3 linked regions of the Homo sapiens genome follow. The protein of the gene in region 1 interacts with the protein of each later gene in a pairwise test. Each region holds a gene or a part of one and is shown on either strand. Other genes may lie near its edges.

Region 1 (10,497 bases):
AATTAATTACTGAGCAATCCCTATGAACACTTCAGACAGGTAGATTCAACTTATAACTTCTACCAGAAGGAAGCTAGTGCCCTCTGCTGGTAAGAATTGCTTTTTCCTCTTTTTGGAAAAGTCTGAAGGGACAAACTGAGAAAGAAAATGCTACCTGGGGATTTAGGCCACATCAAAATCAGTCTGCGACACTAACTGTGTAAATTCTCACCCTCAATACTAAAATAACTCTATGTAGGAACTTTCAAATGCAGTATCAATTGTTCACCCTTTACAGATCTAAGTATTTACTGTTAGGCTTTTTAAGGTATACAGCCCTATCCTCACAAAGTGAAAAGACAAAAATCAGTACAGCAAGCTTTTTGCTTATTTCCCTGTTTTTGTCATCTCATTAAATAAAAGGTGGGGAGGGAACAAGAGAAAAAAAACAAGAGCCCTGATATGGTTTGGCTGTGTCCCTACCCAAATTTCATCTTGAATTCCCACGTGTTGTGGGAGGGATCTGGTGGGAGGTAACTGAATTATGGGGGCAGGTCTTTCCCGTGCTGTTCTCATAATAATGAGTAAGTTTCACTAGATCTGATGGTTATATAAGGGGGAGTTTTCCTGCAAAAGCTCTTTTTGCTTGCTGCCTTCCATGTAAGATGTGATTTGCTCCTCGTCTTCCACCACGATTGTGAGGTTTCCCCAGCCATATGGAACTGTAAGTCCAATGAAACCTCTTTCTTTTGCTAATTGCCCAGTCTTGAGTATGTCTTTATCAGCAGTGTGAAAACAGACTAATACAAGCCCCACGGAAAGAGTTGTCTTGGCCAGGCACAGTGGCTCACGCCTGTAATCCCAGCACTTTGGGAGGCCAAGGTGGGTGGATCACCTGAGGTCAGGAGTTTGAGACCAGCCTGGCCAACATGGCAAAACCCCATGGCGAAATCTCTAACAAAAATACAAAAAAATTACCCGGGCATGGTGGCAGGCGCTTATAATCCCAGCTACTCGGGAGGCTGAGGCAGGAGAATGGCTTGAACCAGGAAGGTGGAGGCCAAGGCAGGCAGATCACCTGAGGTCAGGAGTTAGAGACCAGCCTGGCCAACATGGTGAAACCCCGCCTCTACTAAAAATACAAAAATTAGCCAGGCATGGTGGCACATGCCTGTAATCCCAACTACTCAGGAGGCTGAGGCAGAAGAATCTCTTAAACCCAGGAGGTGGAGGTTGAAGTAAGCCAAGATCATGCCACTGCACTCCAGCCTGGGCAACAGAGTGAGACTCCGTCTTAAATAAATAAATAAATAAATAAGACAGAATCATGGCCGGGTGCAGTGGCTCACGCCTGTAATCCCAATACTTTGGGAGGCTGAGGCGGGCGGATCACCTGAGGTCAGGAGTTCGAGACCAGCCTGGCCAACATGGTGAAACCCCGTCTCTACAAAAATACAAAAATTAGCTGGGCACGATAGTAGTGGGTAATCCCTGCTACTCAGGAGGCTGAGGTGGGAGAATCACTTGAACCTGGGAGGCAGAGGTTGCAGTAAGCCGAGGTCACGTTATTGTACTCCGGCCTGGACGACAGAGCAAGACTCTGTCTCAAACACACACACACACACACACACACACACACACAATCAGTGTATATACACACACAAAAGGACACAAGACTGAAAGGATATGCAACAGAAAATTAATAGTAAATGCATCTCAGAATTATATTTATTTTTTTCTACCTCTTCTTTGCCTGTGCATACTTTAAGCCAACATGGTGGAACCTTGTCTCTACTAAAAATACAAAAATTAGCTGGGAGCGGTGGCAGGCGCCAGTACCCCAGCTATTCAGGAGGCTGAGGCAGGAGAATCGCTTGAACCCAGGAGGCGGAGGTTGTAGTGAGCCAAGATCGTGCCATTGCACTCCAGCCTCGGCAACAAGAGCGAAACTCCATCTTAAGAAAAAAAGAAGGGTGTGATAGTTAAATTTATGCATCAACTTGGCTAGGCAATGGTGTCCAGATAGTTGGTCAAACATTATTCTAGATGTTTCTGTGGAGGTTATTTTTTAGATGAGATTAGCCTTGTAAACTGGTGAAAATTGGGTGAAGGAGATTACCCTGCATAGTGTGGTGGGTCTCATTTAATCAGCTGGAGGCCTCAATAGGAAAAAGACTCACCTCCCCTGAGCAAGAAGAAATTCTGCCAGCAGAACTTCTGAGGCAGCAGAATGCAACATAAACTCTTCTCTGGGTCTCCAGTCTGCCGGCTTACCATGCAGATTTTGGACTTGCCAGCCTTCAGTCACGTGGGCCAATTTCTTAAAATCTCTCTCTTGCTTTGGTGGGTGTGTGTATACCTGAAGAGATGCCTGAATTGACAGCCCTCAGAGATAACCTATCGTGGACTTCTAGCCTCCAAAACTATGAGACAATAAAATTCTATTGTTTGAGCCACCCAGCCTGTATGACACTTTGTTATAATAGCCCTAGCAAACTAATACACAGATGCAACAGTAAATTAATAGTGGATATCTCTCAGTTAGAATTACACTTGTTTCTTTTTCACTTCTACTTTCTTGCGCACATTAAAAAAATTTTTTTGACTATGAACAAAGACTTTTTTGGTAATGAGGAAAAAAAATCACTAAAAACAAATGACATAAGCATTCCTATACTATGTAATTCTGTATCTGCTTCCTATACTATAGAGAGTCAATTCTTTCTCTTAGTTATTAAAAGAACTTCTATTGACTATCCATAACTTATTGCCCAAGTGCTCATCTGACTGTTCACACTGCAAAAGGACACTCACCTTCATAATCTCTTATTGAATCTTCTGTCCTGACCCCAGCCATATTATACTGGCTGCTCACAGACTGAGAAAGCATTCCTTCTAATCTCTCCAGTGTGGCTTGGCCTTCTGCTGTTAGATGGGATAATCCTTCTTCATAGGTGTAAAATGTAGGGATGTCCCCCTGTCCTTGTTCTAAACAAACAGAAAACTTTAAAGTTTAAATACAACAATTAGAAAAAACAAAATGGAATCAATAATATATCTGCCGCCAGCCTGGCCAACATGGTGAAACCCTATCTCTACTAAAAATACAAAAATTAGCCAGGCGTGGTGGCACGCGCCTGTTGTCCCAGCTACTCAGGAGGCTGAGGCAGGAGAATCGCTTGAACCACAGAGGTGGAGGTTGCAGTGAACCGAGATCACGCCATTGTACTCCAGCCTGGGCAACCGAGCAAGACCTTGTCTTGGAAAAAAAAAAAAAAAAAAGAATCTGCTGAAGATAATATACTGTCCAAATAGGCTTCCAGGAAGATACTTTTGAACATTTATTTATACACACATATAGGCTACTGCTGAAGACAGAAATACAAAGAAGATGTACCTACTCTCTAGGGTTATTAAAAGAGATAACAAGCCAGTAAACAGCAATTCCCAAAGAATCCCAAGTCCAGGGACTAGAAAAAAAAAGTGTGTTCCTAAGGTCAGAGAGTCCTACATTATCCTGAGGTGGGAATTTTACAAGTGAGCACAAATTAATTTGGTATTAATTTGTAAAATGAAGATGTTTTCTGATTAAAAAACATGCTCCTTTCTTAAAAAAAATCAGGGCCAGGTGCAGTGGCTGACGTTTGTAATCCCAGCACTTTGAGAGGCCGAGCTGGGAGGACTGCTTGAGCCCAGGAGTTCAAGATCAGCCTGGACAACATAGTAAGACTTCATCTCTCCAAAAAAATGTTTTTTTTAATTAGCCGGGCACGTGGTGTGCACCTGTAGTCTCAGCTAATCGGGAGACTGGGGTGGGACAGCTTTGGTCCAGTAGTTCAAGGCTGCAGTGGGTGGAGAATGGTACCACTGTATTCCAGCCTGGGCAACAGAGTTAGACCCTGTTTAAAAAAAAAAAAAAAATTAGAAATTCTGGAACATACAAAAAGGATGAAAAATTTTAAATCACTCAAAAATCTCAGAAAGATAAGGATATATTTGGATATATTTAGGTATGTGATGGCGGATCCCAGAAATGTGTTTATCTCAGGCCAGGAAGTGGGTACATATGAAGGAAAGGGCTTTGGATACCCAGATTGGTGTACATAAGACCAGTAGGGAAAAGAAAAGAGAACAGCAGGTACTTCAAGCTATAAAGACTCTTATCACGCTAGTGACTGCATTCTGGTCTGGGGGAGGCAATCGGAAAGGGCTCTTAAATAAATGAAGTATGGTTCTGAGAAAAAGAAATGACCTTGGCAGTGAGCTGTTTGAAGGAACATGTTAAATAAAGATGCAGGCCAGGCCCGGTGGCTCATGCCTGTAACCCAGCATTCTGGGAGGCCAAGGCCAGAGGATTGCTTGGGCCCAGGAGTTGGAGACCAGCTTGGGCAATATGGCAAAGCCCAGTCTTTATAAAAAATACACAAAAATTAGCCAGGCATGGTGGCGCAAGCCTGTAGTCCCAGGTACTCAAGAGGCTGAGCTGGGAGAATCATTTGAGTCCAGCAGGCAGAGGTTGCAGTGAGCAGAAATCACACCACTGCACACCAGCCTGGGCATCAGAGTGAGACCCTGTTGCAAAATAATAATAGTAATAATAAAACAATATAAATGATCCAGGTTCTCAAGGTGTAGAGAGAGAAGCTTGTTCTCTGGGGGCAGCTGCCTCAGCTTAAAAGACTTTCCTGACCATCCACTTCCCTATCTACCATTTTCTTTCCTCCCATATGCTCTACTTACCCATTCTTCCCCATAACAATCTCTATTTCTTACACTCAAAAATTTGTCTGTTGCAAAGGGCTTTGGCATAAAGTGTTCTACCGTGTCATTCTATTTTAATAATAATCTTACCAGCCAGGCACAGTGGCTCACACCTGTAATCCCAGCACTTTGGGAGGCCGAGGCAGGCGGATCACCTGAGGTCGGGAGTTCAAGACCAGCCTGACCAACATGGAGAAACCCCATCTCTACTAAAAATACAAAATTAGCCTGGCGTGGTGGCGCATGCCTGTAATCCCAGCTACTTGGAAGGCTGAGGCAGGAGAATCGCTTGAACCTAGGAGGCAGAGGTTGCAGTGAGCCGAGACCACGCCATTGCACTCCAGCCTGGGCAACAAAAGCGAAAACTCCATCTCAAAAATAATAATAATAATTTTACCATACTGCATACTTTACAGTCATATAAAGAACTATAATCCTCTACCCTTAATACAAATAAATGCTTAAAATGAAACACTAAACAAACAAAAAACCCACTTTAAAATCCATTTCACTAACCATGTGCTTCCACATCATATTCTTCTCCATCGTAGTCATCTGAATCCTCATCCTCAGGATCTGGATGCAAGGCCTGGCATTCGCACATTGCAGTGAACATTGCCTCCACTGAACAAGGAAATTAAACTGTAACCAATCTTTTTTTGTAATAAAAGTAACCATCAGTGCAAATAAATTTAATGGGTACACAAAACGCCACAGTATTTACAAAATCTGCCAAATTGTAAGATCAATCTTGAAAGCGGTTGAAGCAAAAGACAAGTCATAAAATAATAAGAGTTCATTATGAGAGATCATTGCAATCTCTTCATGGCTCGTGGGATTTTCCAAGAAAAAAGGGTCAGAGTCCTGGTAAGACTGCTGGCATCAGGGTGAAGGGTGAAGACTGCTCTCAGCTGATAGGGCTCTTTCCAGCCATCCTGAGATCTTCCACTTTAAAACTGCCATAACTCCTCTGCCATCCAGCAGGTGAGATTAAGTCAACAGCACCAATCAGTAAAACTAACCAGAGTCCACTCACAAAATATACCCAGATGACAGAGTGTCTACAATATTCTCACTACATTCACAACCTTTGATATTAATAGGTATTTGGTCCTTAATGATATTACCAATGCTAAAATAAAGAAAAAGCAATAGAATGGAGGTAATGGTGGTAAAGGTGAGAGGTGTGTGTGTGTGTGTATGTGTGTGTGTGTCAATTGGGAATGCTTGGTATGTAAAAGGGGAAGAATCAATACTGTAGAACACTCACACGCTGATTTATCACTAGGCACAAATCTAAATTCAGTAATAGGTTCAACATCATCATCACTGTCTTCCTCTTCTTCATCAGCAACAGGTTCTTTTGATTCTTCTAGAAAATAAAATACCCTTTTAATGTCATTATTTGACTTTAAAAAAATGAAGCATATTGAAAATCTGAATATTGCAATTCAATTTTAATTTCCAATTATGGTTGACAAATTTATTTCCAATTATGGTTGAAAAATTCTGATTATACAGTGAGCATCCTAGAAAAGCCTTGCCTCGATCTCCTGACCTCGAGATCCACGCACCTTGGCCTCCCAAAGTGCTCCCTCCGCGCCTCACCGGGAATGAATTTTTAAGGTTATTTTTAAGGTAATCTAATCTCATCAACAATGAGCTAAGGGTCAACTTTTTTTTCTGAGACTGGGACTTGTTTTGTTGCCCAGACTGGACACCCTTGCCCTCTCAGGCCCAAGCGATCCTCCCACCTCAGCCTACTAAGCAGCTGGGACTACAGGCACTTGCCACCACACCCTGCTAATTTTTGTTTTTTTGAGATGGGGTCTTACGATGTTGCCCAGGCTGGTCTGAAACTCCTGGGCTCAAGTGATCCTCCTGTCTTGGCCATTCAAAATGCTGGGATTGTGGCTGGGCACGGTGGCTCACGCCTGTAATCCCAGCACTTTGGGAGGCCGAGGTGGGCGGATCACGAGGTCAGGAGTTTGAGTCCAGCCTGGCCAATATGGTGAAACCCCGTCTCTACTAAAAATACAAAAATTAGCAAGGCGTGGTGGCAGGCGCCTATAATCCCAGCTACTCAGGAGGTTGAGGCAGGAGAATCATTTGAACCTGGGAGGTGGAGGTTGCAGTGAGCCAAGATCACAGCATCGCACTCCAGCCTAGGTGACAGGGTGAGACTCCATCACAAAAAAAAAAAATGCTGGGGTTACAGATGTGAGCCACTATGCCCGGTCCTGATGGTCATTTTTTTTTTTTTGAGACGGAGTCTTGCTCTGTCGCCCAGGCTGGACTGCAGTGGTGCCATCTCGGCTCACTGCAAGCTCTGCCTCTTGGGTTCACCCCATTCTCCTGCCTCAGCCTCCTGAGTAGCTGGGACTACAGGCGCCCGCCACCACACCTGGCTAATTTTTTTGTATTTTTTTTAGTAAAGACGGGGTTTCACCGTGTTAGCCAGAATGGTCTTGATCTCCTGACCTCGTGATCCGCCCGCCTCAGCCTCCCAAAGTGCTGGGATTACAGGTGTGAGCCACCGCGCCCAGCCCTGATGGTCATTTTTAAAGAGACTTACAGAGGTATGCCAAAGAGAAAAAAAAAAAACTTAGAGCTTAGAGAATCAGAATGCAAGGAACAAAGGCTGGGAAAATATGATTCAAGCACATGTAATTTATGAGAGGAGTTTAAGATAAAAAGAACTAAAGGGCCAAGCGAGGTGGCTAACGCCTGTAATCCCAGCCCTTTGGGAGGCTGAGGTGGGTGGATCATGAGGTCAGGAGATGGAGAGCATCCTGGCCAACACAGTGAAACCCCAACTCTACTAAAATACAAAAAAAAAAAAATTAGCGGGGCGTGGTGGCGGGAGCCTGTAGTCCCAGCTACTCGGGAGGCTGAGGCAGAAGAATCGCTTGAACCCAGGAGGCAGAGGTTGCAGTGAGTCAAGATCGCATCACTGCACTCCAGCCTGGCGACAGAGCAAGACTCCATCTCAAAAAAAAAGAAAAAAAAAAAAGGAACTGGAGAATTAGTGAAATAAATGTGACCCAGAAAGATACTAATTTCTAGTAAGATAGGAAATCCTGCATATCTTACTAAGAAAGGATTAATCATAATCACATCAATTACAACCAATCATATAGATTCTGTATGATTATAGAGCACATATTTAAAACACACACCCTAAAACCTACTGAACTGCTTTTTCCTAGTTTAGGACTCAGAGCATTTGCATTTTAAACAAGCTTCCCATGTATTTCTAATGTGTATCCATTAGTCTTGAGTTTGGGAACAAGAGACTAATATACTCCCTTAACTTTTTGGATGAAATTCAGGCTCAGAGAAATGCAAATGACTTGCCTAGCAAGTTAATGACAGAGTTCTTACTTTTTTTTCTTTTCTTCGACCGTTTTGCTCTGTTGCCCAGGCTGGAGTGCAGTGGCGCGATCTCAGCTCACTGCAACCTCCACCTCCCGGGTTCAAGTGATTCTCATGTCTCAGCCTCCCGAGTAGCTGGGATTACAGGCACCCGCCACCACGCCCAGCTAATTTTTGTATTTTTAGTAGAGACAGGGTTTCACCATGTTGGCCAGGATGGTCTCGATCTCTTGACCTTGTGATCTGCCCCCCTTGGCCTCCCAAAGTGTTGGGATTACAGGTTTGAGCCACTGTGCCCGGCCTAATGACAGAGTTTTCTTATTCAATGTGCTTTTGCCCTTAGGCTAGTATTTATTAAATGCTATTTCCTAAGCCTTTCTCTTGGCATGTACCTTTCCCACCTCCAATGGCCGTCACTATTTGGGGCCATTTCACACCAGCATCTGGAGTTGACTGACAAGAGCAAGGTTTCGCATTTCTGCAAATGAATGAATGCTTTAAACTAAACATGACACATAATATTCTTGGTTATAAAATCATAGTTGCATTTACTTAGATGGAGAGTAAATTTTGTGCCAAATGCCTTATTAGGAAGTCTTACTACACTACTACACCCCAAGGTTAACAGCCTTTTACTTTTCCTCATCCTCTTTTTCAAACTTCACTAGATTTTTAAATGTCTTTGAACCTTTTCCAATGGCAAGAATTTGAAATCTTATAACAAAAATATTTTCAGATAGCTGAATCAGTCATTACCACTTAATGAGGCAGGTCTTGCCAAAAGTCCTAAGAATTACTAAATAGTTTCACACCTGAATATAAATGATCATATTATATCTGGAACCATATTAAAATCTAAATTTGAAAGAGCAATAGCCTTGTAGGTAACTTCATAGGATTGTCTCTTACACACTACTTCAAAGAAAAGCAACCCGTTATTTTAAACATGAGCATCTTCACTAGACTTTTACAAGTCTTTGCAATTATCCCAAAGCAAAACTTGAGAATCTTTATATCCTACAGTTTCTCAACCTTGGCACTACTGACATTTGGATGGAATAATTCTTTGTTGTGGGGGACCATCTGTGCATAGCAGAATATTTAGTATAATAATAGCATCCTTGGCATCTAACTGCTAGACACCAATAATACCCTTCCTCTTTCAACCAAAATGTCACTGCCAAATGTGGGGGAATGGTGAGGTTGGTGGAGGCCCATGGAAAATATATCCCCCCTACAACCACTGAGACCCACTACTGAAACAAAACAAAACAGTTCTATCTTAAATTATGAGAAGCACAGGGTATACTGATCCAAGCCCCTAAGGGTGCCTTTTAAAAAGAGAAAGGCAGAATAAACAGTGAAACTTTAGAGGAAAAGCTAGAAATACATATCCATAATAAATGAAGAATTCTAAGTGTAAATATAGAGAAATATATACAGACACACATGAACATCCATTGTGAAAACTTCAAGTGTCCAAGTTGCTGTGCTGAAATTTTGCTTAATAAACTACTACCCAAAATGAGTCAATGGCCTCAATGTTACATTGATTATTATCAAAGACTCTTTTTTTTCTTTTTTTTTTTTTAGACGGAGTCTCACTTTGTCGCCCAGGCTGGAGTGCAGTGGCATGATCTCGGCTCACTACAAGCTCCACCTCCCAGGTTCACACCATTCTCCTGCCTCAGTCTCCTGAGTAGCTGGGACTACAGGCGCCCACCACCACGCCTGGCTAATTTTTTGTATTTTTTAGTAGAGACGGGTTTTCACCGTATTAGCCAGGATGGTCTCGATCTCCTGACCTTGTGATCCGCCCGCCTCGGCCTCCCAGAGTGCTGGGATTACAGGCGTGAGCCACCGTGCCCGGCCTCAAAGACTCTTTTTTAAAATATAATTTGCTATCAAAGGAGGCATTAGATTAAATTACACCATACATACCTTCAAATTTGGCATTCACCATAACATACAAATGCTCTCCTAGACAGTCACTTCGGTCCCTGGATAATGCATGTAAACTAATGGTGGGGTATTCCAGTGAGAATCCTAATCCAGAGCCATCTAACCAAGACAGGCGGCTGAAAAACATGTTTTAAGTAGATTATTTTTAGAAAGTAAATCCTCATGTAAGACCACAAAGTATATAAAAGTTCAGCTTGGACACCTTTATGCATATAAATAAATTCAAGTTTACTTTTTTAGAAACGTTCATAAAATAAGAAAATTCAGTAGTGGAAACTGAGTTTTCTTTAAGATCAATTCTGTTACGGTCTCTTTCCCTCTAGCTATAAATTCAAACAGACTTGAAATTCCATTTTCCTCAGTCACATGTATGTTTCTATGACTTTCATGCTTACTCTTTTTTGGTATGTCTTCAAATAC
Region 2 (10,497 bases), on another chromosome or scaffold:
TAAGGAAGGATAAAACTGTATTTACTGTATACAGTTCTAGGCATTGGATTTAATATGTGATGTATTTCACTAAGGTGGCCTCCGTGGGTACTATTTTAAGCTACTCTCTCTGTGTGCATATCTTTAGTGACTCAAGGCATTAATATTTTATTCAGGATGTGTAGATAAGATATTTTTGTAATTTAATGGAAAGTCTCATGTTTAATGGGTTTGAATTCTGTTTGTTGGCAATTAAATACCTAAGTATATTAATTTTTTAGGGTTTAGGGTTTTGCCAACAGTAATGTGTTTTGCTTATAAGAGCCCCCCTTTTCTATCTTCTTTTTAATAGCAACATCATGACAACAGAGAAGAGTTTAGTGACTGAGGCCGAAAATTCACAGCACCAACAGAAGGAAGAGGGTGAGGAAGCCATAAACTCAGGCCAACAAGAACCTCAGCAGGAGGAATCTTGTCAAACAGCAGCTGAAGGAGATAATTGGTGTGAACAGAAGCTGAAAGCTTCTAATGGAGACACTCCTACACATGAAGACTTGACCAAGAACAAGGAGCGGACATCAGAAAGCAGAGGACTTTCACGACTATTCTCCTCGTTTCTCAAAAGGCCCAAATCTCAGGTGTCCGAGGAAGAAGGCAAAGAAGTAGAGTCAGATAAAGAAAAAGGTGAAGGAGGTCAGAAAGAGATAGAATTTGGAACCAGTCTTGATGAAGAGATCATTTTAAAGGCCCCAATTGCAGCTCCTGAACCGGAACTCAAAACAGACCCATCTTTGGATCTTCATTCATTAAGCAGTGCAGAAACACAGGTAAGGATGTGTGGATATGGGAGGTGGGCAAAGGAAGGCAGGTTATACACTTTATTTTTCATTTAAGAGTATTTGGGCTGGGCGCGGTGGCTCATGCCTGTAATTCCACCACTTTGGGAGGCCGAGGCAGGCGGATCAACTGAGGTCAGGAGTTCGAGACCAGCCTGGCCAACATGGCCAAACCCTGTCTCTACTAAAAGTACAAAAATTAGCCGGGCCTGATGGCGGGTGCCTGTAATCCCAGCTACTCAGGAGGCTGAGACAGGAGAAGTTGAACTCGGGAGGCGGAGGCTGCAGTGAGCTGAGATCGTGCCACTGCATTCCAGCCTAGGCAACAAGGATGAGATTCCGTCTCAACAACGGGGGGATAAAAAAAGTACTTGGTTTTATTTCTTACTAGCTAGTTGACTTAGGCATTGATAGTGATAAGTAGCATCATAAAGCTTTATAGTTTCTACTCTATTTTTTTTTTGAGACTGAGTCTTGCTCTGTCACCCAGGCTGGAGTGCAGTGGTGTGATCTCGGCCCACTGCAACCTCCCCGTCCTGGGTTCAAGCTATTCTTCTGCCTCAGCCTCCCGAGTAGCTGGGATTACAGGCGCTGGCCACCATGCCCAGCTAATTTTTGTATTTTTAGTAGAGACAGCGTTTTGCTGTGTTGGCCAGGCTGGTCACAAACTCTTGACCTCAGGTAATCTGTCCACCTCAGCCTCCCAAAGTGCTGGGACTACAGACGTGAGCCACCATGCCCGGCTTATAGTTTCTACTCTAAAAAAATTAATGTAGTCATTGGAAACTTACTTTTTAAACAGTTACTTACACTTTATATGTATTAAAGGGTCTTGCTATTTTGCCCAGGCTAATCTCAAACTCCTGGGCTCAAGTGATCCTCCCACCTCAGCCTCCTGAGCAGCTGGCATTACAGGTGTGTACCACCATGCCTGTCCATTTACTGTTTATAAATCAAAGAATAGTAGAGAAAAAAAAAGTATCAAATCAATGTGTTCAGCCCATATATCATTTTATTATAATAATGGAACAAATTGAAGATTTCTCATGAGAGAGGAAAAGAAAGATGAGATGGTTTAGAGTTCATTTTTGTGGAATTATTAGGAACAGGACGGTTATCAGCAGATGTGGTTCTTTTACGTAAATCTTCCTAAAAGCTGTGTGATGAATTCAAGCCCTTTGAAGGTATGTGATAGATTCAAGTCATGTCTACCTTATTTTGATCATCTTCTTTAACTAGAGCATATTGCCACAGAGTGTAAGATACAGATGAGGAAGTCTAGCTCTTTCTATCACCTGTGTAATGTATATTAGTCTGGGGCCTTAATTGTGACATAGTGTTGTTAAACTAAACACGAGTTGTGAGTTTATTTGTCCCAAAAAATGGGAAAACATTAGTACTGTAACTCAGACTATTTTCTGAGAATGTCATTTATTTTCAGCCTCACCATTACAATTAAGAATTATTTTCAGAGTCTTCTTATTTCTGAAGCATGTGAATATTATCTGCATCGTTAAAAGTGTAAGTCCTTCTAGAACTCTGACAGTGTTGGGGGGAAAAAAGTAAAAGTCCTACATGTTTCTATTATAGGTCTGAGATTTGGACTCCATAGTTTTATTAGAGTCTTATTAGAATATTACATGTATTTCTAGAACTATTACTTGTATATTCAAAGTGCTGAGGGTAAAATTTAGGATAAAATTATAATTGCACACTTGCTGTTAGTGAAACAAGGTTGAAAACAAGATTTACTATGTTCTGTAATAGTTAAGATGCAAGCTATAGAATCCGACTAGAGGGTTCAAATCGAAGAAAAGTGACACTTTTCACTTTATCAGTTTCCTCCTCTGTACAATGGGGATAATAATATCCACCTCATTTGGGATTGAAAGGATTAAAAGAGTGAAACCGGTAAAAGCTCTTAAAACATTGCCTGGCATTTAATAAATACTCAATGAATGTTAGCTAGTAAATAAACACAAACAGTAAAGGCAAAGAAACCATTCATATCTTAATAACATTTTATTTTAGGAATACCAAAAGAATTAAATTACATTATCGGCCGGGCGCAGTGGCTCACACCTGTAATCCTAGCACTCTAGGAGGCTGAGGCAGGCGAATCACAAGGTCAGGAGTTTGAGACCATCCTGGCCAACATGGTGAAACCCTGTCTCTACAAAAAATACAAAAAATTAGCTGGGCGTGGTGGCGGGCACCTGTAGTCCCAGCTACTCGGAAGGCGAGGCAGGAAAATTTGCTGAGAGCCGAGATCACGCCACTGCACTCCAGCCTGGGTGACAGTGCGAGATTCCATCTCAAAAAAAAAAAAAAAAAATTACATTATCTTTCAGGAAGCCTGGTACTTTCAAGAGTTTTTCAAATTTCCTTCCTTCCTTCCTTCCTTCCTTCCTTCCTTCCTTCCCTCCCTCCCTCCCTCCCTCCCTTCCTCTCTTCCTCTGCCTCCCTCCTTTCCCCTCCCTCCCTCCTTCCCCCTCTTTATTTATTTTCTTTTTTTCTTTCTTTCTTGACAGGGTCTCTCTCTGTCACCCAGACTAGAATACAGTGGTGTGATCATGGCTCACTACAGCCTCAACCTCCCGGGCTCAAGCTATCCTCCCATCTCAGTCTCCTGAGTAGTTGGGACTACAGGTGCATGCCACATGCCCAGCTAATTTTTAAATTTTTTGGTAGAGACGGTCTTGCTTTGTTGCCTAGGCTGGTCTTGAACTCCTGAACTCGAGCAATCCTTCTGCCTCAGCCTTCCAGAATGCTGGGATTACAGGCATGACCACTGTGCCTGGCCTCAAGGGGTTTTTAACTGCTTTTTTCTCCTTCAGCTTTATATAGGGGAAAATCCATATCTTGTTTTAGTTAACATTTGAATCAGAACTTGTCTGCATTGTCTAAAGTTCATAGATTCGTACTCAAGTTGACACAGATGATGGACAGTTAATTTTAGATTTAACTAAAATCTCATTCATTAAGATTTAATTCCGAATTGAAATAAATTGTCCGTAGGTTATTTGTCTTCATGTGGAGAAAAAGAAACGATATTGTTAGTAAAATTTCAAGGAGATATTATTTAAAAGAACAAACTATTTTAGGCCTTTTGGAAACTAATATTTATAGTCAAAACCTTGTGGATCAGAGTCGTCTGGATAAAGGTTTATTTGCCTAACCATGTTTCTGTATATGTAATAGGATTTTATTTAAATGGTTCTTTTTTATCCAGAATTTTTTAAAAAGCGTGTTTGCTTTATATTATAAATATATAAATATATATTTATATTACATTTAAGTGTATAATATATATAAATATAGGATTGTACCAGTCTTCATCCAGAGTAGCTTGGATTTTTTGGAAGCCTATGTAAATTTTTAATGTTTGTTTATTCATTCAACAAATATTTATTGAAAACCTACCATGTGTGCCAGGCCCTAGGCTGGATATACCTTGGTAAATAAAAACTGCAATATGGTGAAGAGGTTTAAAATCATGGATTTTGGGGCTGAGTGTGGTGGCTCATGCCTGTAAATCCAGCACTCTGGGAGACTGAGGCAGGAGGATCACTAGAGCCCCGGAGTTCGAGACCAACCTGGGCAACATGGAGAAACACCATCTCTACAAAAAAGTAAAAAACTAGCTAGGCATGGTGGCTCTCCTGTAGTCCCAGCTACTTGGGATGTTGAGGTGGGAGGATCACTTGAGTCTGAGAGGTCGAGGCTGCATTGAGCCATGATTATGTCACTGCACTCCAGCCTGGGTGATAGAGTGAGACTCTTGTCTCAAAAAAAAAAAAAAAAAGCAAAAAAAACAAATCGTGGATTCTGAAGCCAGACTGGTATGTGACTTATTAATTGTATGATCCTAGGCAAGTTACTTAATTTCTCTGGCCTGTTTTACAACCCTGCAGGCCAGGTACTATTATCCTCCCTCTATCAAGTGGGGATATAATAATACTACGTGCCTCGCAGGGTAGTTATGAGGATTGAGTTAGTTCACATAAGTAATTTTCTTAGAATAGTGACTGGCCCATTGTAATTGTTGTATAAATGTTTGGTATTATTATTATTATAAAACAGACATGATTTCTACCCTTGTGGACTTTAATAGAGAAGACAAAAAAGTAGCAAATAAAAATAATTATTTATTGTAATAAGTTATAAAGCCACCAGAGTACTGATATGAAAGACAGTAGAGCGGGCATAGATAGATAGGATAGCCAGTGAAGAGACTTCCTGAGGTTGCAGTGAGAGGGTCATGAAAGATCGGAAGGAGTCTTTTAGATTACTTCCAGTATTTAATGCAGGAGTCAAATAATTAATTTCTTTTTCCTAATTGTCAACCATGCATTCTTTTTTTCTTTTAATTGTTTTCCAGCTGTTACACAAGGAAGTAACATATTCTTTTAAAAGAAAATAATTAGTCGGGTTTAGATAAAAATATGTCGGTAGTTTTGTTGTGTTGAAAGTAAAAGTAAAAATGTATGCCGGCCAGGCACGGTTGCTCACGCCTGTAATCCCAACACTTTGGGAGGCCGAGGCGGGCAGATCATGAGGTCAGGAGATCAAAACCATCCTGGCTAACGTGGTGAAACCCCATCTCTACTAAAAGTACAAAAAAATTAGCTGGGCGTGGTGGCGGGCGCCTGTAGTCCCAGCTATTCAGGAGGCCCAGGCAGGAGAATCGCTTGAACCCTGGAGGCGGAGCTTGGAGTAAGCCGAGATCGCGCCACTGCACTCCAGCCTGGGCTACAGAGTGAGACTCCGTCTCAAAAAAAAATGTATACCAAAAATGTTATCCTACTTATCGGTATTATTTGGGGATAATTTAAGATTGCACCAGGAAACTCTTCCTTCATTGACTCTTCTTTGCATTTAACATGATTAATATTGGGTAGAAAGGTGTTAGCTGGTAGTTAAAATTTTTAGCCTACTACATGTTTGCTTAATGATGTGAAATTGGTCCCAAGCATTTCTCTTAGAATTAAAATTAATTTAAAATTTAGAATATGTAACAAGTCACATCTTATTTTGCAGTTTGTAAGGCTACATTGCTAAAATTGAGGAGCATGGGCAGAGACAATAACGTTTTTGTTAAACTTTAATAATACCGTGTAATGGCTTGGTCAGGAAGAATATATAATGCTGAGAGCAATGGATTGGTATCCTCCGGTTTACCTGAGACCTTCATTTATTGATTTGATGGGATTCTACCTGAGAAGTTTTAATAACAAAGTCTTTAGGGCATTTGGGGGATCATACTATTTTTTATAGAAAAATATTTAATATTAATGTCACCTATATTTGTTTTAGTTCATGCTTTTATTGGTAAGATTATTATAGGTAAAAGCATATACAGCATGTTTTGTGAAATGTGTTTATTACTGACTTGGCGATGTCATGGATATGTAGCCTGCTCAGGAAGAACTCAGAGAAGATCCAGATTTTGAAATTAAGGAAGGAGAAGGACTTGAAGAGTGCTCCAAAATAGAAGTAAAAGAAGAAAGCCCTCAATCAAAAGCAGAAACAGAATTAAAAGCTTCCCAAAAACCAATCAGAAAACACAGGAACATGCACTGCAAGGTTTCTTTGTTGGATGACACAGTTTATGAATGTGTTGTGGAGGTGAGTATGTTTTCATTTCCAACAATCAGAACTCTTACAGGTGGTTTCATCTAGAGTTGCGTAAGTGGTGATTTTGCCCACGATAAGACTCACTGTAGTGATTATTTCTTTTTTCTTTTTTTTTTTTTTTTTGAGACAGAGTTTTGCTCTGTCACCCAGGCTGGAGTGCAGTGGCATGATCTTGGCTCACTGTAGCCCCCAACTCCCATGTTCAAGTGATTCTCCTGTCTCAGCCTCCCGAGTAGCTGGGATTACAGCCATGTGCCACCATGCCAGGCTAATTTTTTGTATTTTTAGTAGAGACAGATTTCACCATATTGGTCAGGCTGGTCTTGAAGTCCGGGCCTCAAGTGATCTGCCCACCTCGGCCTCCCAAATTGCTGGGATTACAGGCATGAGCCACTGCGCCCGGCCTTTAATGATTATTTCTGTAGATGGAAGTATTAATGGTGATTTTCTGGAGGTGGGATTATGGGAAGATGATGAGTAAGTCTTTAAGTCCAGTAAATGCCATTTCTTAAAATTTTCTGTTTTCTGAAAGAATAAGTGATTGAATCAGGATTGAAGAAAAATATCAGAGTTATTCAGTTACTCTTTTTGCTCCTTCAGGACAAGTTGACAATTTTTTTTTTGTTTGTTTGTTTTTTGAGACAGAGTCTCTCTCTGTCGTCCAGGCTGGAGTGCAGTGGTACAATCTCGGCTCACTGCAAGCTCTGCCTCCTGGGTTCACGCCATTCTCCTGCCTCAGCCTCCAGAGTAGCTGGGACTACAGGCACCCGCCACCACGCCTGGCTAGTTTTTTGTGTTTTAAGTAGAGACGGGGTTTCACCGTGTTAGCCAGGCTGGTCTCGATCTCCTGACCTCGTGATCTGCCCGCCTCGGCCTCCCAAAGTGCTGGGTTTACAGGCTTGAGCCACCGCGCCCGGCCAGAGCAAGTTGAAATTTTAAAAAAATCTACTAACTATATATTTTTCAAACTGGAACAGTAGTTGTTTATTATGATATGCTTGATATATAAGCAATTGCAATTGTTACTAGTAACAGCTTTTATTGACAAAGTGTGTAATTCACATATATGTGGAACAAACTATTTTATTTATTTATTTATTTATTTATTTATTTATTTATTTATTTGAGACAGGGTCTTGCTCTGTTGCCCAGGTTGAAGTGCAGTGGCGCAGTGACAGCTCACTGCAGCCTCAACCTCCTGGGCTCAGGTGATCCTCCCACCTCAGCCTCCTGAGTAGCTGGGACTACAGGCACATACCATCACACCTGGCTAATTTTTTATATTTTTTGTAGAGACAGGTTCTCACCATGTTGCCCAGGTTACTCTTGAGCTCCCCGGCTCAAGCGATCTGCCTGCCTCAGCCTCCCAAAGTACTAAGATTATAGGCATGAGTCACCGCACCCAGCCTTATTTCTTAATCACATTATTTATTTGCAAATGTAAATATGTTCAATCACAAATCATCTAAAATATTATGCTATATTTACTAATAGGTATTCTCTAAGTTTAAAAAGGAAATCAAGAAAGATGTAATTGTACTTTGAAACAGGTACTATACACCTAACTAGAGCCTTAGGGTCTGCTTTTTCTGCTTCTTGCACTAACTAATTTAGAGATGGGGAAAGCTATTTTACACCTATTCTTCCCATTCAGACCAAGATCCAGATATGGATCTCTTATATATGAAGCCCTTGGGGACAGATGTGTCATAGAATTCAGAATATTTTGAGGCCGGGCACGGTGGCTCATGCCTGTAATCCCAGCACTTTGGGAGGCCGAGGCAGGTGGATCACGAGGTCAAGAAATCGAGACCATACTGACCAACATGGTGAAACCCCGTCTCTACTAAAAATACAAAAATTAGCTGGGTGTGGTGGCACGCACCTGTAGTCCCAGCTGCTTGGGAGGCTGAGGCAGGAGAATCGCTTGAACCCAGGAGGTAGAGGTTGCAGTGAGCTGAGATCACACCACTGCACTCCAGCCTGGCGACAGAGTGAGACTCCGTCTCAAAACAAAACAAAATAAAAACTAGAATTCAGAATATTTTGGAGTTTAGCAAGGGAATAAGTACATATTCTGCATATTTTATAATAAACCCAGCAGTGTCTGTAGCAGCACCCACATGATCAGACATAGTATTTCTATGGTAAAAGATATGAAGATTCATTCTGAGGTGGATAAATTAAGATTATAAATAGTCTCTTTACAGTTCAAGTCAAAATTTGCCATTTGGATTTTAGAATTATGAATAAGGGATTAGGGAAAATACATGAAGCATTTTCAAATCATCTTCTGTCATTTAGAATGAAAACATGGGAGAAAAAAAGAAAATTATTTGATATGGATGAGTTAAGACTGACAATGAATGAACATTTATGTGAATTATTAATAGTCATTAAAAATAACTCATCTCATTGAGAGGAGGACATGTCATATATGTTTGCCCAAAAAATGATTCTAATTTTTTGAAGTATTTTCATATATATTTCTCAGAAGACATTCACATATTTGATTATTGTTAAACAATTCCAATAAAGAGGTAGGATGAGTGTAAATATTCTTATCATTTCACAGCTGAGCAAACTAATGTTCAGAAAAGTTAATTGAATCTACTCAGCTTGTTTAGCTAGTAAATGGAGGAGCCAGGACTTTCTGACTAAATCTCAGTCTTTAAGTTAGGGTATTTTCTTCCTATAAATAGGAGTAAAAGAACCCAAATTTGGGAATGGTTTGACTTTCTAGGTTAAGAAACATTAAGAAAATTATTCCTAGCACCACTGAAGGAGCCACTTCAACAGGTAGTGTCTGTTGGCTATCTAGAATTTTACTTTATTCATTTTTCTGAAAGAGATTGTAGGGAGTTGAGGCATACCTCATTTTCTTTGGGACATTTGGTCTGAAAATGATAGAGTCTAATGATTTCCACAGCCACAATTAAATGTCACTCTGGACAGTTGATTCAGTAATTTAAGTAGTCACGGTAACTGACAGTTGCTCATAGCATGCTACAGGATATATTGCACCAAAAATGAAGAATGTGATGTGTAGGATGGAGATGGGGAATATGAGATGGAAGGAAGGTAGAATTTTGCTTTGAATTGTAACACAATTTCTAAACTAGTATATGTGTATTACATATGTAAACTGACAAATTGAAGAACAGGAATTTTATAAATCATATTTTCTGCTTAAACTATGTAGCCACCTGAAAGTTTGTTGATCACCAAAGATGAAAGAAGAAATCGGAAAGTGACATTTTATTTTATTTCATGATGGGTGTAGAAATAAGAAGAAACCTCAGGCCAGGTGCAGTGGCTCATACCTGTAATCCCAGCACGTTGGAAGGCTGAGGCGGGGGAATCACTTGAGGCGGGGGAATCACTTGAGCCCGGGAGTTCAAAACCAGCCCGGGCAACATAATGAGACTCTCTCTACAAAAAATTTTAAAAATTAGTCAGGCATGGTGGTGCACATCTGTAGTCCTAGCTACTCTGGAGGCTGAGGTGGGAAGATCACTTGAGCCCAGGAGGTTGAGGCTGCAGTGAGCTATGATCAGGCCACTGTACTCCAGCCTGGGCAACAGAGTGAATCCCCATCTCTTTTGGGGAAAAAATAAAAGAAGAAGAAACCTCAACTCAACTAAGTCACGTATATCTTTGCAGAAACATGCTAAGGGACAAGATTTGCTTAAACGAGTATGTGAGCATCTCAATCTTTTGGAAGAAGACTATTTTGGTCTAGCCATTTGGGATAACGCAACCTCTAAGGTGAGGAGACTGCTTGCAATTTAAGAAGCTGACAAAAAATTTATTTTAATTCTTTTGTTGTTAAGAATGTATCTATACCTGCTTCTCTAAGCCAGTGTTCTTAGAGTTATTCCTGTCTACTCTTATTTCTTAGATTTTCCTGCTATTTTTCTTCTAGAATTAACATTTTAAAGGAAAGACCATTGCTGGTGTATTCTTTCATCATTGAAATAAAGTATATATTGTATGTTTTTACAAGGCAAGGAAAATAAAGAGGTATGATGCACTGATTAGCAAG
Region 3 (11,277 bases), on another chromosome or scaffold:
ACCCCAAGTCTAGGATTTACAGTTGACAGAACTAAGGCTCAAATAGCCTAAGTGACTTACCCACGGCTCCACAGCTTGTCAGTGGCAGAGTCAAATCTATCCTGGTTTATCAGACTCCAAATATACATTACCTAATTTGTATTACTCCTCGCAACAACTCAGCAAGCTAAGGGGATAAGTGATTAGTCCAAGATTACATAGCTAAAGTGGTGGGTTTTTTGGTAGTTTTTGTAGTCCCAAATCCAGGTACCTTCTATTACACCAAAGCAATTTCATATCATTGAAGTTGGAAGAACTTTGCCTTATGAAGTGACAGAATCAGTTATCTATTTCACTGTTGACTAAACTACAAAAGATCCTTCATCATCGCAAATTTAAAAACCAACCCCTGGGCAAACATCCCAAGGGTAAATTCCACCACTAATAAATTTAAAAATCACTGTGCTTTGCTTTCCTACTTAACTTGAACAGTGTTCGGTCCTGGCACTGCCTCTCTGTCTCTTTCCAAAAATGAGGCCTAGTGGCCTTTATCATGGGCTCCCAAGGGAATCAGGTGAGCTAACTTACTATATTCTGTTACTGGGTACCCACTGCATGGCCAGTACAATCACTTAGCAATCAGGTAAATGTGAAAGTAGAGATGTTTTAACATCTCGTTTTGACTTTAGTCTCCAGAAACCATCAAAGTGAAACATCATTTTGGAAATTCAGAAATAACAGCTTTTACAAAGACAGAAATGCAGCAGGCAAAAAGGGATATCAGATAGAACTGTGTCAAATACGGTGATGGGATGACCATTTTGTACAACTCTCTATGTAACCTGAGATGAGCAAACAAGAGGTTGCTCTCCAAAGGCACTCATCACTACTACTGTGTGTGAGAGTGTGTGCACACATGCATGTGCATGTGTGTATATTGAAGAGATTGATAGTCAAGCTAGAAACTTGACCCTCTATTGTTTCTAATATCTCACAAAGCTTTAACTTTGGTCTTATCTTCCTTTTTTCCTTCAAGAAAAGTTCTAGTCTCCATGTTGAAGAAGCAAAACCAAATATACAATAAAACCTGCAATTAATTTGTAAATCATGACCTTATTCAATTTTTAGTCTCACTCACCCACTCCCATCATCATTCTAGAGAGCCTTCCTTGACAGTCTAAAGATAAGCTGTCCGTTGTAAGATCAGCCCTAAGAATAATGCTAATATTTGACAATGATCAGTTTATGAAATAAATATGAGGGCTTGAAAAGTAAGATGACATTTTCACTAAATTCATTTTCTTCATTGGATTGTACTTTAGTAGGCACATTCTAGCAATTGTGAAGTCCCATAACCTATCCTGCACCCCTAAACACTATTGGAAGTTCATGAAAGAAAAGGTTGACTAATATTTTCAGAGAATTTATCTATAAAATCAACACCAAGTGACTCAGAGCACAAATATGCAAAGAAACCTCAGGAAAACAAGATGTATTTGGGAGCAGCCACTCTTTCTAATAAACTAACTGAAAGTATTAACAAGTTAAAAACAGTAGGATGATCAGAAAGCGGAGTTGTCAATCATGCAATGACAGAAAAAGGAATAACCAAGGCCAAAATTGGTAGCATCCAGGCAGTATGTCCAGGCCAGAGTGTGCTCTTGCTCACGAACTTTACCTACCAATATAGCAGAGTCTACTGTTCCCAGAACTGGGCCTGGGACATATTAGGTCCTCAATAATAATTTGTTAACTAAATGAGTTAATTAATGAATACGTGACTAAAAGGTCTCAATGCCATGGCCTCTGTGGACACAGATGCATTACCAAGCCATCGAATATTAGGATCATATATCTAATTCTTCCAGATCTGGCTCTTCTGACATCATTTGGCATATAAATGATGAGAGGACCCCAGTGTCCCCAATCCCACTGTAAATGGTGACACTAGCATTCTAATTTTAAATGTCAGTCTCTGACTCCAGTTCTTGTGGAGTAGTGACAAAACAGGCTTCTTAGTCAGGAGGCCTGAGTTAGACCTTGGACACTGGCAAATTCAGGAAGATAATAGTACTGGGGGTGGAGAAAGGGTTCTGGATGTCAATGAGCTTTCTCCAGGTGACATTATTTTATCTGATCATGTGTCCTTTTTATATTTCTACCACTGCACTTTCTATAAAATCAACACCAATACCCAAGAGTCCACTATGTTCCCTTATGCAACCAATTATTTTCTTGAATCTTATCTTGAAGGACAATTTTCCCTGGTTATGATCCATGCCTCTTGAGATTTCAGTTTAGTATCAAAAGGTCCTCCATGTGGCCTTCCTCAGCTATCAATGGGTTCTCTTCATTATGGTTCCAAGCATTTCTTCATCAAATTTGGAATGTTAGTACTAATAAAATAGAGCATTCTTTAGGTTGCTTTTTTAAGTGTTTGAATAGGTGAAAAGATTCACACCATTGTCTCCCTGACCTTGAGGGAACACTGTCCCACATAATTCTTCAACCATGATTAAGAAAAGAAGGGTCTACTAACTGGTTCACAATAGTCATCAAAAGCTCACTGTGTGCCAAGTTCTATGCCTTGTGAGGTCATCAGAAAATAAATAATGTGCATCGGCAATACTGAAGGCTACTGACAGATGAGTCTACTGTTTACAATTGTATATGAAGGAGAGGGGAGAGTTCTGGATTGGAAGTCCAGCTCTGCAATTATATGCTGTGTGATTGTGCACACGTCACTTAAGTTCCCTGAGCCTCCATCTTTTAACTTACAAAATGGGAAAAGATCTTTTCCCTACCTTCACTCACAAGGCTGAATGGAAGATCAAATGAACTAATGGATGTGAAAGTGCTTTGTAAATTTTAAAGTGCTATCCACAGATGACTCACTACTGCTATCATCATCATCACCACCATTATCATCATCATCACTATCATCATCATCATCATCATCATCAATCTATTATTGTTAAGCAGAGAAGGTACTATTGGATGATTGAATGCTAACTTAAGCTTCTAACTCCTCTGGACAAAGCCACTCACAGTACTGCAGCCAATGCTATTGCCTCTCTGGGTAACACCATGGTTGCTACTTACAAAGCATTCTTCCACAGAGCAAAAGGGATCACATGCTTTGACACCTGAATTGCTGGGTATCAAATCTCTCCCATTATCTTTCCAAGGAACACAATGTGTTGCAGCTGGAAAGAGACAGTTTGACTTGAAGCCAAATCAAGTCTTCTAGTTGCTGGAAGTGGCTCTTCCGTAGGTGAATTTTGTGAAGATATGGTACTGTGTTCCTTACCCACCCTCCACCCCATTTAAATGGATCTGAATTAGACTGCACATTCAACAAACTCTTCTGTCACTTTTTGTCAAAGATTTCTCTTTGAGTTCCTTGAAATATCTATTAAAAACTTAGCCTAAAGCAATATCTTTTGAATACCCAGCTCACTAATTCAGGTACTGCAGCACTGTGAGCATACACCACCAGTCTGCAAATGGATAAACTACTCAAAAGATATTTTCCACCCCTTAAATATAGTTCCAAGAAAGAATAGGAAATGCCTCATACCTCTAATGGAAGCTATTTGCTACAAAAACAAATCATTCAGGTCCGTGGAACTAGAAATGCCTTTTGCGCATAAAACTGAAAGGAAGAGACAGCAAAACAGCAGATGAAGACATGAAGTCATCACTCACAAAGCACATGATTCAAATAAAAATAAAATACTCATTGGAAAAATGGGCTACCCACACACACAACATCATGGCTGAGCCACAGCAGTTGTCAGTTTATGTATAAAAGAAAAAAACCAACATTTTGTATGAATTTCAGAGAAAATAAACTATTTGTCTCTTGTTAGTGGCTAATGTAAATATCAGAGCAAATAGCATTTTTGGTTCCAATAAAAATGTAGAACTTTTCAAAATGCTCATACATAAATCCTGACATCAAAATGTACATATCTTAAGATGTTGGAACATGAGCACCAAATGATGTGCTTAATACATTTGTTCTTTCTTGAAGAGATGAGGTATAATTGTATGCAATCATCTTGTAGCTAGGAATTTATTAAGAACTCTGAACTATAAGTACTAAATCAAACTAAATAGTCTCTTATCCTATTTTTCTCTCTCATACTTGTCATTCCTTCCTGAAGTTCTCATTACAACTACATAATTCTACCCCTTATAACCCATAGGTTTTCTTCAGAAAAGGAGGATAGCTTCCCCCACTCCTTTCCCTCAGAACAACAGTTTTCTCCCCACAAATGCTCATGGGGTGAGACCCACAGACATAATTTCAATGAACAACAATACCTTATTGGGTAAAAGAACTAGTTTATTGCTGCTTTACTTTTTGCAAATAGTTATCCTGTCTTTAAAATTTGCTATTGTTGTCCCTTGAGAAAAGACAACTTGTTCTAAGAGAAAGGTTAATGGAAAAATATGAACTACATTGTGATGTTAAATACAGATTATTTTTCCAAAGCTAAAAATCACAGTCCTCCTTCATTCAGTCCTAAAGAAGACATAACATTGCTCTCTAATGGGCTGTTCACAAATGACAATTATTGAATGAATAATAAAGGAATAATAGCAATGTGATTTCCACTTACATCAACCACAAAAATCTTCTGGGAATCATCCAAAAACTGCACTTTTAAATGTAGCATTCTCAGCGAGGCCGTTGGGCTGCAAGCAGGCTCAGAGTGCTGTGGGTGCTTTCTCCAGGAATTTCACTCCCAGCTGGATGTGGTGCACTCGGGCCCCCCCACCCCCAGCCAGGCATTCCCACTGTCAGCGGGGCACACTTCCGTTTGCTTGAAGTAATGCACACCCAAGGGCATTTGTGCTGCCAAGTGCAGGGGATCAATAGCATCTGGGCAGTCTCCTGTTTGGTCAATATCAAATCTAACTGGACTTCCTCTAGCCTTCTTAAACTCAGCTCCTTTCTTCAAAGAAAAATATAAAGAAAGCAAGCATTTGTGGTCCCTGGGGATTTTCTTTATTTCACAAGGGCACAATTTGAAAACCCTAGATCAAGCTTTAATAAACTGAGAATAGCCATTCTCAAAAGTAAAAAGATTCAAGTTAATCTCAAATTGTACTAGAAATTTCATGGCCAAGCTAGGAAGCATCTATCTATCTATCTATCTATCTATCTATCTATCTATCTATCTATCTATGCTTATATATATCTATATATAATTATATAGATATAATATATCCATATATAATTATATAGATATAATATATCCATATATAATTATATAGATATAATATATCCATATAATTGCTATTATATAGAAACATATATAATATAAAATTATGCATAATTTTAATTATCTGAATTCACATGATTTAGAAATAAAAACTATATAAAAAGGTATATAGAAAACTTCACTTCCACTCCTGTTCCCTCTTTTCTGTGTTCCCAATACACCCCTATTGGTAACCAATTTTTTTTCTTTCTATTCCCATAGAATTTATGTGCTTACATCTATAAAGAAATGAAACAAGGAATACAACTAAGGTCGAACCCCATCTCAGCTGTAAATAACATTCATGTATTCTTGGATAAATGAACTAATTAGGATAAAGAACGTTCTAATAAAACAGTCATCAAAGAATTACATTAATATCATTTTCATTATATAACAATAATTACGATGACATTTATTCTGGACTGAGATAACACTTAAGGCAAGAACTAAGAAAACTTACCTCCATTTGTATTTTTTGTTGACAAGAAGATAATGGGTGAATGATTAAAAGATGCCAAGCACAGTAGATTACATTACGATAGGATTCTTGGCTGAAAGTGGTATGAAAATATAGAAGAAGAAAAGCCAATTTAAAATGTTCAACTACTAAAGAACTAGCTCGTTTATTTTTATAAATGAATAAAGGGTGTCAAATTGTTGTGATATTTAAATTGTACCGGATATGTTTAAAATAGTGATGTAACAGTTTTTATTTTAAAATACCAATATTTATATGACACCAGCAAACACATACTTTGTCAAGTATTTAACTTCCCATGAAAAATTTTAGATGTCAACTTAGATGGGTGAGGGGACACATGATTTTTCAAAATACTTTTGGGGGTCACATGAGCAGAATACTTTGTGGACCACTGCTTTAAAACACTATTTCTCTAAGTACGGTTGAGGGACCAACTTACAGAATCACCTGGGAAGGGTGGCTGACTTTTTAAAAATGCCGATACCTGAACCCCATCCCCAAATTGGGTTGTTAGGTTTGGGGTGGACCCCAAATAGATCAATTTTCAACATGCACTCCAAGTGGCTCTCATGCAAACCATTTAAGAAGCACTACTTAAAAAATAAAAACTAGCATTTTACAGTATTATAGCCATGGCTGAAGAGGGAAACAACCTCACATACATACCTGGACTGAGGATAGAATTGAAATAAAAGCTAAACAAGAGCCGGAGCTCTCAAAATAGCAGCACCCGTGGAGGAGGCTAGAAATAGGAAAAGGTCACCAGGGAAGGAAGGCACTTTTCCTGGAATTCCTAGTACAATCAAAGAATAGAATGGGAATGGAAGGGCTTAGGCAGGCTAAGCCCACTGTGGGCTTTCCACTGTGGTTGCACTTTGGGAGAAAACAGAAGAAAGTCCTTTCCCATCTTGAACCAGCCTGAGGAAAGCCCGTGTTTAGGAGGGTCGACCGTCACACCAAAACAAAACATGCCCTAACAGAAGCTGATTGCAAAGCAGGTGACAGAGAACACTTTGGGAAGCACTGCTGGAGGCTGGCAGAGGGGTAGTTGCCATGAAAATGCCCTTGAGAGCCTCTGAGAACACTGTTGGGATGGTTGAGGCACCTGTTCCCTTTTGGTCCCACCGGTGGCCTAAAATGTGGTCTCGGAGTACTTGTCGTCTGCCTGCTCACTGGGTGGAGCTTGCCAGCATCTGTTCTTTCTTCCTAGGATCACAGAAGAACTGCAGCTTCCTGGGGAGCAGTTTCACTTCCACAGGCATCGCTTCATACTCCTCACTGTCAATGCTAAAAGAGCTCCCTGCTCCCTTGGGGACAAGCAAAGTGTACTGGCTGGCTTGGAGACACTCCATGCCCTCAGTGTCCAGCTTGGCTTTTCTCACCTTTAGGCTTCCTATAGTTATAAAGCCTCCTTTGCTGACGGTGTCGGCTTCAATGCAGATGTTCATAAAATCTTTGCATGTTCGGTCAAGCTGATTGTTCCGTGTTGTGATGGACAGTTCAATGGTGGACAACTGCACATCTTTCCAGACCTCTCGGCTCACCTCTTGGGAAAGGGCATCCTGTGGTTGTGCCCAGTAAGATGCAAGCCTCCGTAATATTCTCCTGTACAAAGAAGGCCTTCGTACAGGGGTCTCCTCTGGTTCATTGGCAGGTCTCTCTGTAGGTCCTGTATACAAGATAGAAGTTTCATGAGTCTGAGGCCACTCCTTAAGAGTGCTGAAAAAGTGGGCTGCTTTGATTTTTAGAGACCCAAGATATCAGTACCTGCTAACTTTGATGCCAGCATCTCTGAGGGATCCCCACCAAAGGCCAGTCATTGCAAACACAGGCTGTTCCTTTTCACCCTTGATCTGCAAGACGTCAAATGGAACTGTCTCTCTGTTCACAATGGCAAGTGTAGCATCAGTAATATGTTGGACTCTGTTTCCACTTTCAGTAAAGAGGTTATGATTCAAACTACTGGTCTGTCCCAGTGGGATAAATCCAATGGGAATCTTACTGAAGGTAGCCTCATCTGTTCATCGAAGAACTCCAGTAACAACCTCCTGCAGTGTCCCATCTCCTCCTGTAACAATGATCACATATGTGTTTTCTATCAGTTCCAGGAATTTCTTGGCTTGTCCCTCATAATCTGTCTTAACACTAGTCACACCTATGCTGGGATAAATGTAAAATCGGGGCAGCATTTTTTTCAAATAGAATCCTGGCTTTGCCTTTGCAAGCTGCAGGATTGAGAAAAACAGTTTCCTTCTTCACTTGTGCATTGGGAGGAATGAGTTGATTGCCAAACACCTGAGCTTCTTCACAGGCTGCTCTCCTTAGTAGGTTATCACAGTGTTTTCCATAGAGCCACTGGCCTCCCCAGGTCAGCAGGAAGAGCCCAGCTGTAGTTTTCTTCCAATGATTTTGAAGTGTTTTAAAGAACACCGTCATCTTCTAGAGATTTGCATGGCTGGTCCCACTCAATAACCACTTTTATTAGCGTTTTGTTGTAGTTGTTCAGCCTTCAGTGTTTCCTTATGCAAATTTTATACAAGCAAATACAAATATATATATATATCCTATGTAGGTAGCATACTAGTATTACACTGTTTTGTGCATTCTTTTTCCTCATTTATCATGGAGATCTGCCCTTACCTGTGCATGGAGAACTTCCTCATTTCTTTTCACAGCTGCATAATTTTGCACTGTGTAGACAAACCAAAGTTCACTCAGCCAGTCTGAAATTAATATTTCAGCCTCAACAAGACTGAAATGAATATCTTCATACATATGTCAATTTATATGTGTGCAGATATATCTGTAGGATAGATTTCCAGAAGTAGAGTTGCTGGTCAAGGATAATGAATTGGTAGTCATGATAGCTATATTTCCTTCCATAAGGGTTAGTATGGGTTGAATTGTGACCCATAAAATTCATACATTGAAGTCCTGAGCCCTAGTAACTCAGAATGTGACTGCATTAGGAGAGAGGGTCTCTAAAGAAGTAATTAAGTTGAAATGAGGTCATTAGGGTGGGTCGTAATCCAGTTTGACTGGTGTCCTTATTAAAAGAGAGTAGGACACAGACATGTAGAGAGGGAAGACAACATGAAGACACATAGAGGAGAAGATGTACATCTATGAGCCATGGAGAGAGGTGTCAGAAGAAACCAGTCCTGCCAACACCTTGATCTCAGACTTCTAGCCTGCAGAATGGTGAGAAAATAACTTTCTGTTGTTTAAGCCACCCGGTCTGTGATATTTCATATGGCAGCCCTACCAAACTAATAAAGGTTGTGCTACATTGCAGTCCCATTAGTAATATATGAGAGTGACTGTTTTCTATACAGGCTTGACAGTGGAGTATCGAACTTTTGAATGTTTACCAAACTGATAGGTGAGAAAAAAAATCTTGGTGTACTTTTCATATTATGAGAGAAGTCAAGCATCTTTTCATATGTTTAAGGGCCATTACTTTTTTTTTTTTTTGAGATGGAGTCTCGCTCTGTCTCCCAGGCTGGAGTGCAGTGGTGCGATCTTGGTTCCCTGCAGCCTCCACCTCCCGGGTTCAAGTGACTCTCCTGCCTCAGCCTCCCAAGTAGCTGGGAATACAGCCATGTGCCACCGCACTCCACTAGTTTTTTTTTTTTTTTTTTTTTTTTGTATTTTTAGCAGAGATGGGGGTTCCACCATTTTGGCCAGGCTGGTCTGGAACTCCTGACCTCACGTGATCTGCCCGCCTCAGCCTCTCAAAGTTCTGGGATTACAGGTGTGAGCCACCGTGCCTGGCCCCAGTGCCATTACATTTATATTAATTTCTTTTTTGTGTGGATTTCTTTTATTGTGAAAGATGTGTTCATTTACTTCGACATTCCATTTTATTTTTCTTATTTAAAAGATTTTGTATAGCCCAGCATGAGCGACGCAGAAGACGGATGATTTCTGCATTTCCATCTGAGGTACCGGGTTCATCTCACTAGGGAGTGCCAGACAGTGGGCGCAGGTCAGTGGGTGTGTGCACCGTGTGCGAGCCGAAGCAGGGCGAGGCATTGCCTCACTCGGGAAGCACAAGGGATCAGGGAGTTCCCTTTCCTAGTCAAAGAAAGTGGTGACAGACGGCACCTGGAAAATCAGGTCACTCCCACCCGAATACTGCGCTTTTCTGACTGGCTTAAAAAACTGCACACCAGGAGATTATATCCTGCACCTGGCTCAGAGGGTCCTACGCCCACGGAGTCTCGCTGATTGCTAGCACAGCAGTCTGAGATCAAACTGCAAGGCGGCAGCGAGGCTGGGGGAGGGGCGCCCGCCATTGCCCAGGCTTGATTAGGTAAACAAAGCAGCCGGGAAGCTCCAACTGGGTGGAGCCCACCACAGCTCAAGGAGGCCTGCCTGCCTCTGTAGGCTCCACCTCTGGGGGCAGGGCACAGACAAACAAAAAGACAGCAGTAACCTCTGCAGACTTAAATGTCCCTGTATGACAGCTTTGAAGAGAGCAGTGGTTCTCCCAGCACACAGCTGCAGATCTGAGATCGGGCAGACTGCCTCCTCAAGTGGGTCCTTGACCCCCGAGCAGCCTAACTGGGAGGCACCCCCCACCAGGGGCACACTGACACCTCACACAGCAGGGTACTCCAACAGACCTGCAGCTGAGGGTCCTGTCTGTTAGAAGGAAAACTAACAAACAGAAAGGACATCCACACCAAAAACCCATCTGTACATCACCATCATCAAAGACCAAAAGTAGATAAAACCACAAAGATGGAGAAAAAACAGAGCAGAAAAACTGGAAACTCTAAAAAGCAGAGCGCCTCTCCTCCTCCAAAGGAACACAGTTCCTCACTAGCAACGGAACAAAGCTGGATGGAGAATGACTTTGACGAGCTGAGAGAAGAAGGCTTCAGATGATCACATTACTCCAAGCTACAGGAGGACATTCAAACCAAAGGCAAAGAAGTTGAAAACTTTGAAAAAAATTTAGAAGAATGTATAACTAGAATAACCAATACAGAGAAGTGCTTAAAGGAGCTGATGGAGCTGAAAACCAAGGCTCGAGAACTACGTGAAGAATGCAGAAGCCTCAGGAGCCGATGCAATGAACTGGAAGAAAGGGTATCAGCGATGAAAGATGAAATGAATGAAATGAAGCGAGAAGGGAAGTTTAGAGAAAAAAGAATAAAAAGAAACGAGCAAAGCCTCCAAGAAATATGGGACTATGTGAAAAGACCAAATCTACGCCTGATTGGTGTAGCTGAAAGCGACGGGGAGAATGGAAAACACTCTGCAGGATATTATCCAGGAGAACTTCCCCAATTTAGCAAGGCAGGACAACATTCAGATTCAGGAAATACAGAGAACACCACAAAGATACTCCTTGAGAAGAGCAACACCAAGACACATAATTGTCAGATTCACCAAAGTTGAAATGAAGGAAAAAAGGTTAAAGGCAGCCAGAGAGAAAGGTCGGGTTACCCTCAAAGGGAAGCCCATCAGACTAACAGCAGATCTGTCGGCAGAAACTCTGCAAGCCAGAAGAGAGTGGGGGCCAATATTCAA

What was found.
Region 2: the proteins of CLNS1A (region 1) and EPB41 interact in binary tests that used the Homo sapiens proteins (3 or more experiments, as listed by UniProt).
Region 3: the proteins of CLNS1A (region 1) and FRMD7 interact in binary tests that used the Homo sapiens proteins (3 or more experiments, as listed by UniProt).

Annotation. Positions count from the first base shown.
Region 1 is NC_000011.10:77,619,707-77,630,203, forward strand, and holds part of CLNS1A (methylosome subunit pICln), read right to left. Parts: intron 10,194-10,497; coding exon 10,057-10,193; intron 6,113-10,056; coding exon 6,011-6,112; intron 5,365-6,010; coding exon 5,257-5,364; intron 2,968-5,256; coding exon 2,794-2,967; intron 1-2,793. UniProt on the Homo sapiens protein: Involved in both the assembly of spliceosomal snRNPs and the methylation of Sm proteins.
Region 2 is NC_000001.11:28,987,100-28,997,596, forward strand, and holds part of EPB41 (protein 4.1), read left to right. Parts: intron 1-331; 5' UTR 332-338; coding exon 339-806; intron 807-2,256; exon of another isoform or gene 2,257-2,336; intron 2,337-6,230; coding exon 6,231-6,443; intron 6,444-10,115; coding exon 10,116-10,220; intron 10,221-10,497. UniProt on the Homo sapiens protein: Protein 4.1 is a major structural element of the erythrocyte membrane skeleton. It plays a key role in regulating membrane physical properties of mechanical stability and deformability by stabilizing spectrin-actin interaction. Recruits DLG1 to membranes.
Region 3 is NC_000023.11:132,123,181-132,134,457, forward strand, and holds the start of FRMD7 (FERM domain-containing protein 7), read right to left. Parts: upstream 4,841-11,277; 5' UTR 4,665-4,840; coding exon 4,608-4,664; intron 1-4,607. UniProt on the Homo sapiens protein: Plays a role in neurite development, may be through the activation of the GTPase RAC1. Plays a role in the control of eye movement and gaze stability.